Linked DNA regions of Homo sapiens. The protein of the gene in region 1 purifies or fractionates together with the protein of each later gene. This does not show direct contact. Each region holds a gene or a part of one and is shown in the gene's direction. Other genes may lie near its edges. The genes, in order: PABIR2, CREB3L2 and PLOD1.

Region 1 (3,655 bases):
GTTGTAAAAATTCGCTGGGCATGGTGGTGTGTGCCTGTAGTCCCAGCTACTCAGGAGGCTGAGGCAGGGGAATCACTTGAACCTGGGAGGCGGAAGTTGCAGTGAGCAGAGATCATGCCATTGCATTCCAGCCTGGGCAACAAGAGCGAAACTCTGTCTCAAAAAAAAATAAAAAGAAACTTAGAGCATTTTATCACTATTTTATACTGCTCACTACATTAGTATTCAAATAAGTTTTAATAGTGTAGGGCCTCTTAAACAGGATAATTGTTATTTGGTTTTATAGTATTACAAGTTCACTTGCATTTCGTTATAGAATAAATAGTAGTCGTTTATATTATGACCACTAGAACTCTCTAAGACCTGTTGATATGAATTGTGTCTTACAGTTTGTGACCAGCTTGTAATTATTGTGAAGGAACATAATTTGGCCTCCAAATCATTTCTGCTTTGTGTTATTAAAAAATGATGATCTAAGGGAAAGCATCAGTTATTTTAAAGATACACCTTGTCTTTCCAAATTGTTTTTTGTTAACTAGTAAGATTTGTAGTGATAGCATATGATGAGATTTTAGAATGGATTTGGATCGTGAAAGCAAAACCTCCTTATTGCAGTTTTAAAGTGTTTTTGAAAATCATCAATCATAGACAAAATATTATATACTAGACTTATTAGCCTGTCTTCCCCCATTGCTGCATTGATAATAAAAATTAATAACATTGGTGTTTTTTTTTCTTTCCCTTCTCATATTGTTCTTTATTTTAGATAAGTGGGATAATGGATATTTCTAAGGCCCATAGTCTTTATTTCTCTAAATTTACGTAGCTTCACATTCATTTGGGAAAAGTGCTGAAGTCAGTGTCTGTCTAGCAACAGATGGCGCTTTGAGGTTGGACACCTGGTGTACTTTTTGAAGACTAAATGTACTGCCTTTAGTGCATTAACGTTCAGTGATCTAAAGAGCTAAATTTTGAAGAAGAATATGAAAACTTACCTAGGAAGAGGTTGTACGCCAGTACTGACAGCAGACTGCTGCTTTGTGATTCAGAAAATAGTAAATGTTTACTTTTTCTTTCCAGTTGCTGTCATCCTCACCTAATCGTATTCCTAGTAGCAGACTGCATCAGATCAAAAGGGTAAATTTTACTTACTAGCTCAGATTGGAAATTTTTTGGATTTTACATTTTTATTTTAAAGACGTAGATATTAAAATGAATTAGGATGCAACTCTGGTTAGTTGGAGACAGATTATAATTCTTCTGGAGCGTGTAGATAAAATATACAAGCGGCATGAATGTTCCACTCTACTGTGATTATGTCAATGAGGTAGAAAAAGTCTTTTTATTTTATTTGAAGCAGAGAACTATGTGGATAAAAATTGCAGTGTGTGGAAGAGTTAATATTTTGTCAGTGATCCTGCCTTTTTAGCATATATGTTTGTCTTTGCAGGAAGAAGGCCTGGATATGGTGAACAGAGAAACTGCACATGAAAGGTTAGTGCTTTGCAAGAGCAGGGCCTAGCCTAATAAGTGTCTTGTTTGTAAACACTGACGGCCCTTCCCTTTGTTTATTTTAGGGAAATGCAAACGGCAATGCAGATAAGCCAATCATGGGATGAGAGCTTGAGCCTGGTAAAGTTTGCTCATGTCTGTTTGGTTTTCATTTTCTAGAAACTTTTATGTTGTTCACTAGGTTCATTAATTTTTTCGCACACTTCTTTCCCCTTCTACTTCCAAATTGATACTTGTTTTTTGATCTCTGCTTTTCCAGCAGAATATTAGAGTCTATACCTTTCTCCTTGGAAAATCTGGGTGTGTTATAGTAGTAAGTAAGAGCTGTGATGTGCTGAATTTATTATGAGGAGATGACACTTTATGTTTACAGAGTGACAGTGATTTTGACAAGCCGGAGAAATTATATTCTCCTAAGAGAATTGACTTCACTCCAGTTTCTCCAGCACCTTCACCCACCAGGGGATTCGGAAAGGTAGGATAACTGACAAGATATTAAGTGTATTTCACAAACTGAGCTGTTTACTCTAAAACACACACAAATCACCCCACTTTTAAAGTATCCAATGCCTTGAAGGAAAATCAATGAAAATCTACAGCAGTAATTTGGAAAATATACATATATATATGTATATTCTTGGTCTTCTTAAAATATATATATATATAACATATATATTACATATATATAACATATTACATATATAACGTATATATTACATATATAACGTATATATAACACATATATAACATATATAACACATATATAACGTGTATATATTACACATATATAACGTGTATATATTACACATATATAACGTGTATATATTACACATATATAACGTGTATATATTACACATATATAACGTGTATATATTACACATATATAACGTGTATATATTACACATATATAACGTGTATATATTACACATATATAACGTGTATATATTACACATATATAACGTGTATATATTACACATATATAACGTGTATATATTACACATATATAACGTGTATATATTACACATATATAACGTGTATATATTACACATATATAACGTATATATTACACATATATAACGTGTATATATTACACATATATAACGTGTATATATTACACATATAACGTGTATATTACATATATATAACGTGTATATTACATATATATTACATATATATATATGTAATTTAGTTATGAGACACACAGACAGCCAAGCAATTCTAAAGATATTGTTTCTGTCATTTTGAAAAGAACCTTTTGAAAATGATTGTGGGCCTGGTATGGTGGCTTATACCTGTAATCATTCCAACTCTTTGGGAGGCCAAGGTGGGAGGATCACTTGAGCTCAGGAGGTCGAGAGCAGCCTGGGCAACATGGCGAGACCCCATCTCTACATTAAAAAAAAAAAAATAGATACAAAAAAATTAGTCGGGCATGGTGGCGCACACCTGTAGTCCTAGCTCATCAAGAAGGTGGGGCAGGAAGATGGCTTGAGCCCAAGAGTTCGAGGCTGCAGTAAGCTATGATCGCATCACTGCACTCCAGCTTGAGCAAAAGAGAGACCCTGTCTCTAAAAAAAAAAAAAAAAAAAAAAAAGAAAGAAAACTGGAGTGCTAGAACTATTTTAATATTGAATATGTTTTTTCTAGTAATGTTTTTCACCCTTCTTACAGATGTTCGTGAGCAGCAGTGGATTGCCACCAAGTCCAGTTCCCAGTCCAAGACGATTTTCAAGGTAAGCAAACTTGAATTTTAAATGTGGTTGAAGTACCATTCATTACATTTATCTCTCAGATTAGCTTTTTGTGGCTGGGCGCAGTGGCTCACACCTGTAATCCTAGCACTTTGGAAGGCCGAGGCTGGTGGATTACCTGAGGTCAAGAGTTCAAGACCAGCTTGGCCAACATGGTGAAACCTCGTCTCTACTAAAAATAGAAAAATTAGCTGGGCCTGGTGGCAGGCGCCTGTAATCCCAGTTACTCGGGAGGCTGAGGCAGGAGAATCGCTTGAACCAAGCAGGCGGAGGTTGCAGTGAGCTGAGATCGCACCATTATACTCCAGCCTGGGCAACAGAGCAAAAACTCTGTCTCAAAAAAAAAAAAAAAAAGAAGATTAACTCTTTTTCCCAATATTTCACTGTGAAAT
Region 2 (3,655 bases), on another chromosome or scaffold:
ACGTGTGCCACCATGCCCGGCTAATTTTTTTGTTTTTTGTTTTTTGTTTTGAGATGGAGTCTCTCTCTGTCACCTAGGCTGGAGTGCAGTGGCACAATGTCAGCTCACTGCAACCTCTGCCTCCCGGACTCAAGCGATTCTCTTGCCTCAGCCTCCCAATTAGCTGGGATTACAAGCATGCACCACCGCGCCCAGCTAATTTTTGTATTTTTAGTAGACGGGGTTTTACCATGTTGCCCAGGCTGGTCTTGAACTCCTGACCTCAGGTGATCTACCCGCCTTGGCCTCCCAAAGTGCTGGGATTACAGGCTAGAGCCACTGCGCCTGCCATTTTTTTGTATTTTTAATGGAGACAGGGTTTCACCATGTTGGCCAGGCTGGTCTCGAACTCCTGACCTCAAGTGATCCGCCCACCTCAGCCTCCCAAAGTGTTGGGATTACAGGTGTAAGCCACTGCTCCTGGCCACTCAGTGTCCATTTTACTGGTGGCCTGGTTTGTAGGAAAGTAGGTGTGAGTTTGGCAGCTAGAAACCCGGGAGGACAGACTAGTCAATGAACCAGCAGCTTAAACAAATGGCAAGCAGCTTGCAGAAGTAAGCAGGGCTTTGGTGACTTCTACGCTAACCACCTCCCATCTTAACTGGTTTACTTACAGAGCTGGAAATTAATCATTCTCCTCCCACTCCTCTCTCTCAGATTTCTGCTCAGGAAAGTAGGAGAAAGAAGAAAGAATACATGGACAGCCTGGAGAAAAAGTAAGCCTGCTGGCAAACTGTTGCGTTCATCGGGCAGTATGCACAGGGAAATATGGGTGTGCGGAGAATCGGGGAGAAGCAGTTCAATTCCTCTTTCTGGCCACCTTGGAAACCCGGTGGTTTATCAGCTGTGGTTTGCCTGCCACCTAGTGGTTATTTGGAGGAGACGTCTATAATAAAGCAAGAAAGAAGTGAAAGTACCTTAGTAGGTGTTTGAATCATACCACTGCCAGCCAAGGACCCCGGAGTCCTCACAGACTTCTTTTCAAACACATACAAATATTAACATTCCTGCACATTCCTGGAACTTCTAGCAGGAGAAGCCCTGTTTTAGCTGAAAGGAGCAGTGCTACTTAATCAGCCCCCATTGGCCACACTCCTTCATGCTCTAGAGAGGGCACATAGGGAAAGAAAGATGTCAGGTTGGCAGCCTTTATTTTCCAGCCACTACAATTCATGTTTTTTTTTTTTTGCAAAAACACTTGAAGGCAATCTTTGTTCTTTTGAAAAGTCTGTAATATCAGGCGGGCTGTTAGAAAAAGATGAATTAAATACAGTTTTGTCTTAGCCCTGGAAGTTAGTTCTTTAGCTAACAAACCAAGATATTTTTAAGATGGGCATGAGGCCCCAGACCCAGAAATGAACTTCATGTGGATCTGGGGAAAGGAGTGGCTGGTGGTTCCTGGCTGTTTCTCAAAGCTACTATTGAAAGTTTAGTGCTTCTATCACCTGACTTAAGTACTGGTAATGCAGCATTAAGTATAGTTGGCTCTCCATATCTGGGGGTTCAGCGTCCTCAGATTCAACCAACCATGGGTCTAAAATATTCAGAAAAAAACTTCAATAGGCTGGGTGTGATGGCTCACTCTTATAATCCCCGTGCTTTGGGAGGCCAAGGTGAGAGGATTGCTTGAGCTCAGGAGTTCAAGACCAGCCTGGGCAACATAGCCAGACCCCCTAAAAAATAAAAAAAAATTAGCCAGGCATGGTGGTGCACATCTGTGGTCCCAGCTACTCAGGAGGCTGAGAGGGGAGAATCACTTGAGCCCAGGAAGTTGAGGCTGCAGTGAGCTGTGATTGTGCCACTGCACTATAGCCTTGATGATAGAGTGAGACTCTGTCTCAAAAAACCAAAGCCAAAACCAAACAACTCAATAAAAAAAAACTACAACAATAAAAAATAATACAACTATAAATACAAGATAACACATATTTACATAGTATTTACATTGTGTTTGGTATTATAAATAACCTAGAGATGATTAACATATACTGGAGGATATGTAAAGGTTATATACAAATACTACACCATTTTTTAATCAGGGACTCGAGCATCTGGAGATTTTGGTATCTGTGGGGAGTTCTGGAACTAATCCCCCCTGAATACCGTGGGAAGACTGTAGTCCCATGCTGTCCCACCATTTTCTATGGGCATCCAGGGTCAAGATGTTCCTATGAAAGTCTCTTTACTGTCTCTTTTGGGCATGCGTGCCCCAGCACCAGGATTCCTAGTCCTGGGCTCTCGTCCTGCCCTTTGCTTAAGTCTCTTCACTTCTTATCAGTCCTGGTAAGAGTGTAGCTGGGAGTATCCAGATTACTGTAGTATAGAGGGAGAAGTATGATGGGCATTGAGAACACTAGGGAGGAGGTGAGAGGAAAGAGGTTGTAACACCCTAAAAGAGGGTCATATTTTGTACTGTCACTATTCATCTTTCATTATTCAGGCACTCATCACTCAGCTCCCTCTTTTTTTTTTTTTTTTTTGGAGACAGAGTCTCGCTCTGTGGCCCAGGCTGGAGTGCTGTGGCATGATCTTGGCTCACTGCAACCTCTGCCTCCCAGGTTCAAGTGACTCTTCTGTCTCAGCCTCCCAAGTAGCTCGGATTACAGGCACACACCACCATGCTCAGCTAATTTTTGCATTTTTAGTAGAGATGGGGTTTCACCATGTTGGCCAGGCTATTCTTGAGCTCCTGACCTCAAGTGATCTGCCTGCCTCAGCCTCCCAAATTACTGGGATTATAGACATGAGCCACTACGCCCGGCCCCAGCTCCTTCTATTTTTCTTTTTTTTTTTTTTTTTTGAGACAGATCTTGCTCTGTCACAAGGCTGGGGTGCAGTGGCGATCTTGGCTCACTGCAACATCTGACTCCTGGGTTCAAGCGATTCTCCTGCCTCAGCCTCCCGAGTAGCTGGGATTACAGGCACGTGCCACCACGCCCAGCTAATTTTTGTATTTTTAGTAGAGACAGGGTTTCACCATGTCGGCCAGGATGGTCTCTATCTCCTGACCTTGTGATCCGCCTGCTTCGGCCTCCCAAAGTGCTGGGATTACAGGCGTGAGCCACCGTGCCCGGCCTATTTTTTTTTTTTTCTTAAGTCTCTTCATCCTTCTTTCAATACTTTCCCACACTTCCATGGGGTGGCAGATCCCCCCAACCCTCCTTTTCCTCATCCCCACCTACCTCCACCCTAGCTCCTAGCTTAGTGTTTGCTCTATGGATAATAATTTTCTTCTTTCTCCCTCCTTTGTAGAGTGGAGTCTTGTTCAACTGAGAACTTGGAGCTTCGGAAGAAGGTAGAGGTTCTAGAGAACACTAATAGGTAAGTGTCACTGGACTGAGAGCTGATTGCGCTACCAATGGAAGATGGGGAAGGAAGAGGATAGAATCCAGAACCAGGGATGGCAGAAAAGTGGAGGAGGTCACAGTGAAAGTGCAGTTGTGCTGAGATGCTCAGCATGGCCAAACTCCACCCACCCACTCCTGCTACACACACACGCATGCACACGTGCTACTCTTGCACATATACAAACACATATGCACACATGCTCTCATGTTCACATCCACAATACACATATGTACACACTCTCATATGCACATACATGTACACATACATG
Region 3 (3,476 bases), on another chromosome or scaffold:
TTTCCTCCCTTCCTCCCTCCCTCCCTTCCTTTCTTCCTTCCCCTCTGTTCTCTTCCTTCCCTCCCTCTCTCCCCTCTGTCCATACATTTTTGTTGAGAACCTTTTCTGTGCCAGGTAGTTGCAGGCACTCGAGCATAGAGCCCCATGTAGACCTGGCCCCTGTAAGCTGACCTGCAGCAGGCCAGACCAGGCCCCATGTGTGCACCCTCCTCTCCTGGCCTTTGTGTCCTCCTTAACTAACACGGGCTCTCTTGTCCCCCTGCCTTGGTACAGGCCCAGTTTGACCTGGCCTTTGTCGTCCGCTACAAGCCTGATGAGCAGCCCTCACTGATGCCACACCATGATGCCTCCACCTTCACCATCAACATCGCCCTGAACCGAGTCGGGGTGGATTACGAGGTGAGCAGGAGCCAGCCGGGGTCAAGGGGCCGGCAATGGGGATGAGGAGGGCTAGCTGAGGAGAGGCTTCAGGGTGGTTGAGGCAGAGGGGCCCCAGGTAACCAGTGCCAGAGAACCAGAAAAAAAAGGATGTGGGTCTGTGGGAGGGCTTCCTGGAAGGGTTCACAGTCTAGCAGGAGGAGGGGCCAGGCTCTTAAGCTACTATTTTAAGAGATTTTTGGGCTCGGCATGGTGGCTGATGCCTGCAATCCCAGCAGTTTGGGAGGCCAAGGCAGGCAGATCACTTGGGGCCAGGAGTTTGAGACCAGCCTGGCCAACATGGCGAAACCCCATTTCCACTAAAAATAGAAAAATTAGCTGGGCGTGGTAGCACACACCTGTAATCTTAGCTACCCAGAAGGCTGAGGCATGAGAATCTCTTGAACCCAAGAGGTGGAGGTTGCAGTGAGCTGAGATCATGCCACTGCACTCCAGCCTGGGCAACAGAGCGAGACTCTGTCTCCAAAAAAAACAAAAAGAGGTTTTTTGAACTTAGCCCTGGGCTGGGTGCTGTGGAGAACACTCATAAAAACAGCTATAATCCTTTTTTTTTTCTTTTTCGAGACAGGGTCTTGCTCTGTCACCCAGGCTGGAGTGTAGTGGCATGATCACAGTTCACTGCAGCCTCAACCTCCTGGGCCCAAGCAATCCTCCCACCTCAGCCCCCCCAAGTAGTTGGGACCACAGGCGTGTGCCACCATGGCCAGCTAATTTTTTTTCTTGCTTTTAGAGATGGGGTTTCACTATGTTGCCCAGGCTGGAGCTATAATTTTTTGAGAGCTTACAACAAACATATCAGGCATCCCTAATCCAAGGATTCTCAACCAGGAGCAACTGTGGCCTGCAAGGGACATTGGCAGTACCTGGAGACATAATTGGTTTTTACAACTATGAGGGGCTACTGGCATCTAGTGGGTAGAAGTCAGAGATGCCCGGGACAGCCTTCCACAGCAAAGTGTCTATAGTGGTGAGGTTGGGAAGCTTGATCCTCAGCTCTCAATTGTAACATCTCATTTAATTCTCACTATCCTGTTCTGTTTAACCCTCATTTTACAGAAGGGGAAACTGAAGCTCAGGTTGGTCACAGTTAGTAAAGAGTGGAGGTGATGTCTGCCCAGGGCTGCCTGACTCCAAGGACAGAGCTCTTGATCACTTACTCTTTGGGTTTTTTTTTTTTTGAGACAGTCTCATTCTGTTGCCCAGGCTGGAGTACAGTGGCGCGATCTCGGCTCACTGCCTCCTGGGTTCAAGTGATTCTGTCTCAGCTTCCCGAATAGCTGGGATTACAGGCGTGCGCTGCTACACCCAGCTGGTTTTTGTATTTTTAGTAGAGATGGGGTCTCACCATGTTGGCCATGCTGGTCTTGAACTCCTGACCTCAGGTGGTCCACCCGCCTTGGCCTGCCAAAGTGCTGGGATTACAGGCGTGAGCCACCACTCCTGGCCACTACTCTTCATTTAGTGTCTTCCTTAGCAGCGCTTGTGGCTGTCACTCCAGAAGGCATCCCCAGGCAGGCAGTGCTGAGGGCCACTTGGCCATGACAGGAGATCATGACGGGAGAACAGACGGGCAGGGGGGCGGTGGGGAAAGGCCACTGATGCTTTCTGTCTCCCAGGGCGGGGGCTGTCGGTTCCTGCGCTACAACTGTTCCATCCGAGCCCCAAGGAAGGGCTGGACCCTCATGCACCCTGGACGACTCACGCATTACCATGAGGGGCTCCCCACCACCAGGGGCACCCGCTACATCGCAGTCTCCTTCGTCGATCCCTAATTGGCCAGGCCTGACCCTCTTGGACCTTTCTTCTTTGCCGACAACCACTGCCCAGCAGCCTCTGGGACCTCGGGGTCCCAGGGAACCCAGTCCAGCCTCCTGGCTGTTGACTTCCCATTGCTCTTGGAGCCACCAATCAAAGAGATTCAAAGAGATTCCTGCAGGCCAGAGGCGGAACACACCTTTATGGCTGGGGCTCTCCGTGGTGTTCTGGACCCAGCCCCTGGAGACACCATTCACTTTTACTGCTTTGTAGTGACTCGTGCTCTCCAACCTGTCTTCCTGAAAAACCAAGGCCCCCTTCCCCCACCTCTTCCATGGGGTGAGACTTGAGCAGAACAGGGGCTTCCCCAAGTTGCCCAGAAAGACTGTCTGGGTGAGAAGCCATGGCCAGAGCTTCTCCCAGGCACAGGTGTTGCACCAGGGACTTCTGCTTCAAGTTTTGGGGTAAAGACACCTGGATCAGACTCCAAGGGCTGCCCTGAGTCTGGGACTTCTGCCTCCATGGCTGGTCATGAGAGCAAACCGTAGTCCCCTGGAGACAGCGACTCCAGAGAACCTCTTGGGAGACAGAAGAGGCATCTGTGCACAGCTCGATCTTCTACTTGCCTGTGGGGAGGGGAGTGACAGGTCCACACACCACACTGGGTCACCCTGTCCTGGATGCCTCTGAAGAGAGGGACAGACCGTCAGAAACTGGAGAGTTTCTATTAAAGGTCATTTAAACCACTGAAGGGAAGATGCTCAGGGCGAGTGGGTGTGTGTGTGTCTTGGTGTGAGTGTCTGCAGGGAGAGAGGTTTTAAGAGCCCTCTTTTTTTTTTTTTTTCTTTTTTTGAGACAGAGTCTCACTCTGTCTTCCAGGCTGGAGTGCAATGACGCTATCCCCGCTTTCTGCAACCCCCGCCTCCTGGGTTCAAGTAATTCTCCTGCCTCAGCCTTCCGAGCAGCTGGGGCTACAGGCACCCATCACCACGCCTGGCTAATTTTTGTTTTTTTATTAAAGAAAGGGTTTCACCAGGTTGGTCTGGCTGGTCTTGAACTCCTGACCTCAGATGATCCACCCACCTCGGCCTCCCAAAGTGCTGGGATTACAGGCATGAGCCACCGTGCCCGGCCAAGAGCCCTCTTTTTAGAGCCTTTAAGAAAGGTCATGCTAGCCTCTCGACCCCTGAGTAGCTGGGATTATAGGTATCCATGCCTGACACATTTTTGTATTTTTTGTAGAAACGGGGTTTCATTTCACCGTGTTGGCCAGGCTGGTCTCG

The links.
Region 2: the proteins of PABIR2 (region 1) and CREB3L2 purify together in Homo sapiens (co-immunoprecipitation; one large-scale study listed by IntAct). This does not show direct contact.
Region 3: the proteins of PABIR2 (region 1) and PLOD1 purify together in Homo sapiens (affinity purification with mass spectrometry; 2 studies listed by BioGRID and IntAct, with this or other methods). This does not show direct contact.

Annotation. Positions count from the first base shown.
Region 1 is NC_000023.11:134,787,062-134,790,716, reverse strand, and holds part of PABIR2 (PABIR family member 2), read left to right. Parts: intron 1-1,080; coding exon 1,081-1,137; intron 1,138-1,450; coding exon 1,451-1,494; intron 1,495-1,577; coding exon 1,578-1,632; intron 1,633-1,885; coding exon 1,886-1,987; intron 1,988-3,183; coding exon 3,184-3,245; intron 3,246-3,655.
Region 2 is NC_000007.14:137,901,059-137,904,713, reverse strand, and holds part of CREB3L2 (cyclic AMP-responsive element-binding protein 3-like protein 2), read left to right. Parts: intron 1-696; coding exon 697-755; intron 756-3,291; coding exon 3,292-3,360; intron 3,361-3,655. UniProt on the Homo sapiens protein: Transcription factor involved in unfolded protein response (UPR).
Region 3 is NC_000001.11:11,972,599-11,976,074, forward strand, and holds the end of PLOD1 (procollagen-lysine,2-oxoglutarate 5-dioxygenase 1 isoform 2 precursor), read left to right. Parts: intron 1-273; coding exon 274-399; intron 400-2,054; coding exon 2,055-2,210; 3' UTR 2,211-2,939; downstream 2,940-3,476. UniProt on the Homo sapiens protein: Part of a complex composed of PLOD1, P3H3 and P3H4 that catalyzes hydroxylation of lysine residues in collagen alpha chains and is required for normal assembly and cross-linkling of collagen fibrils.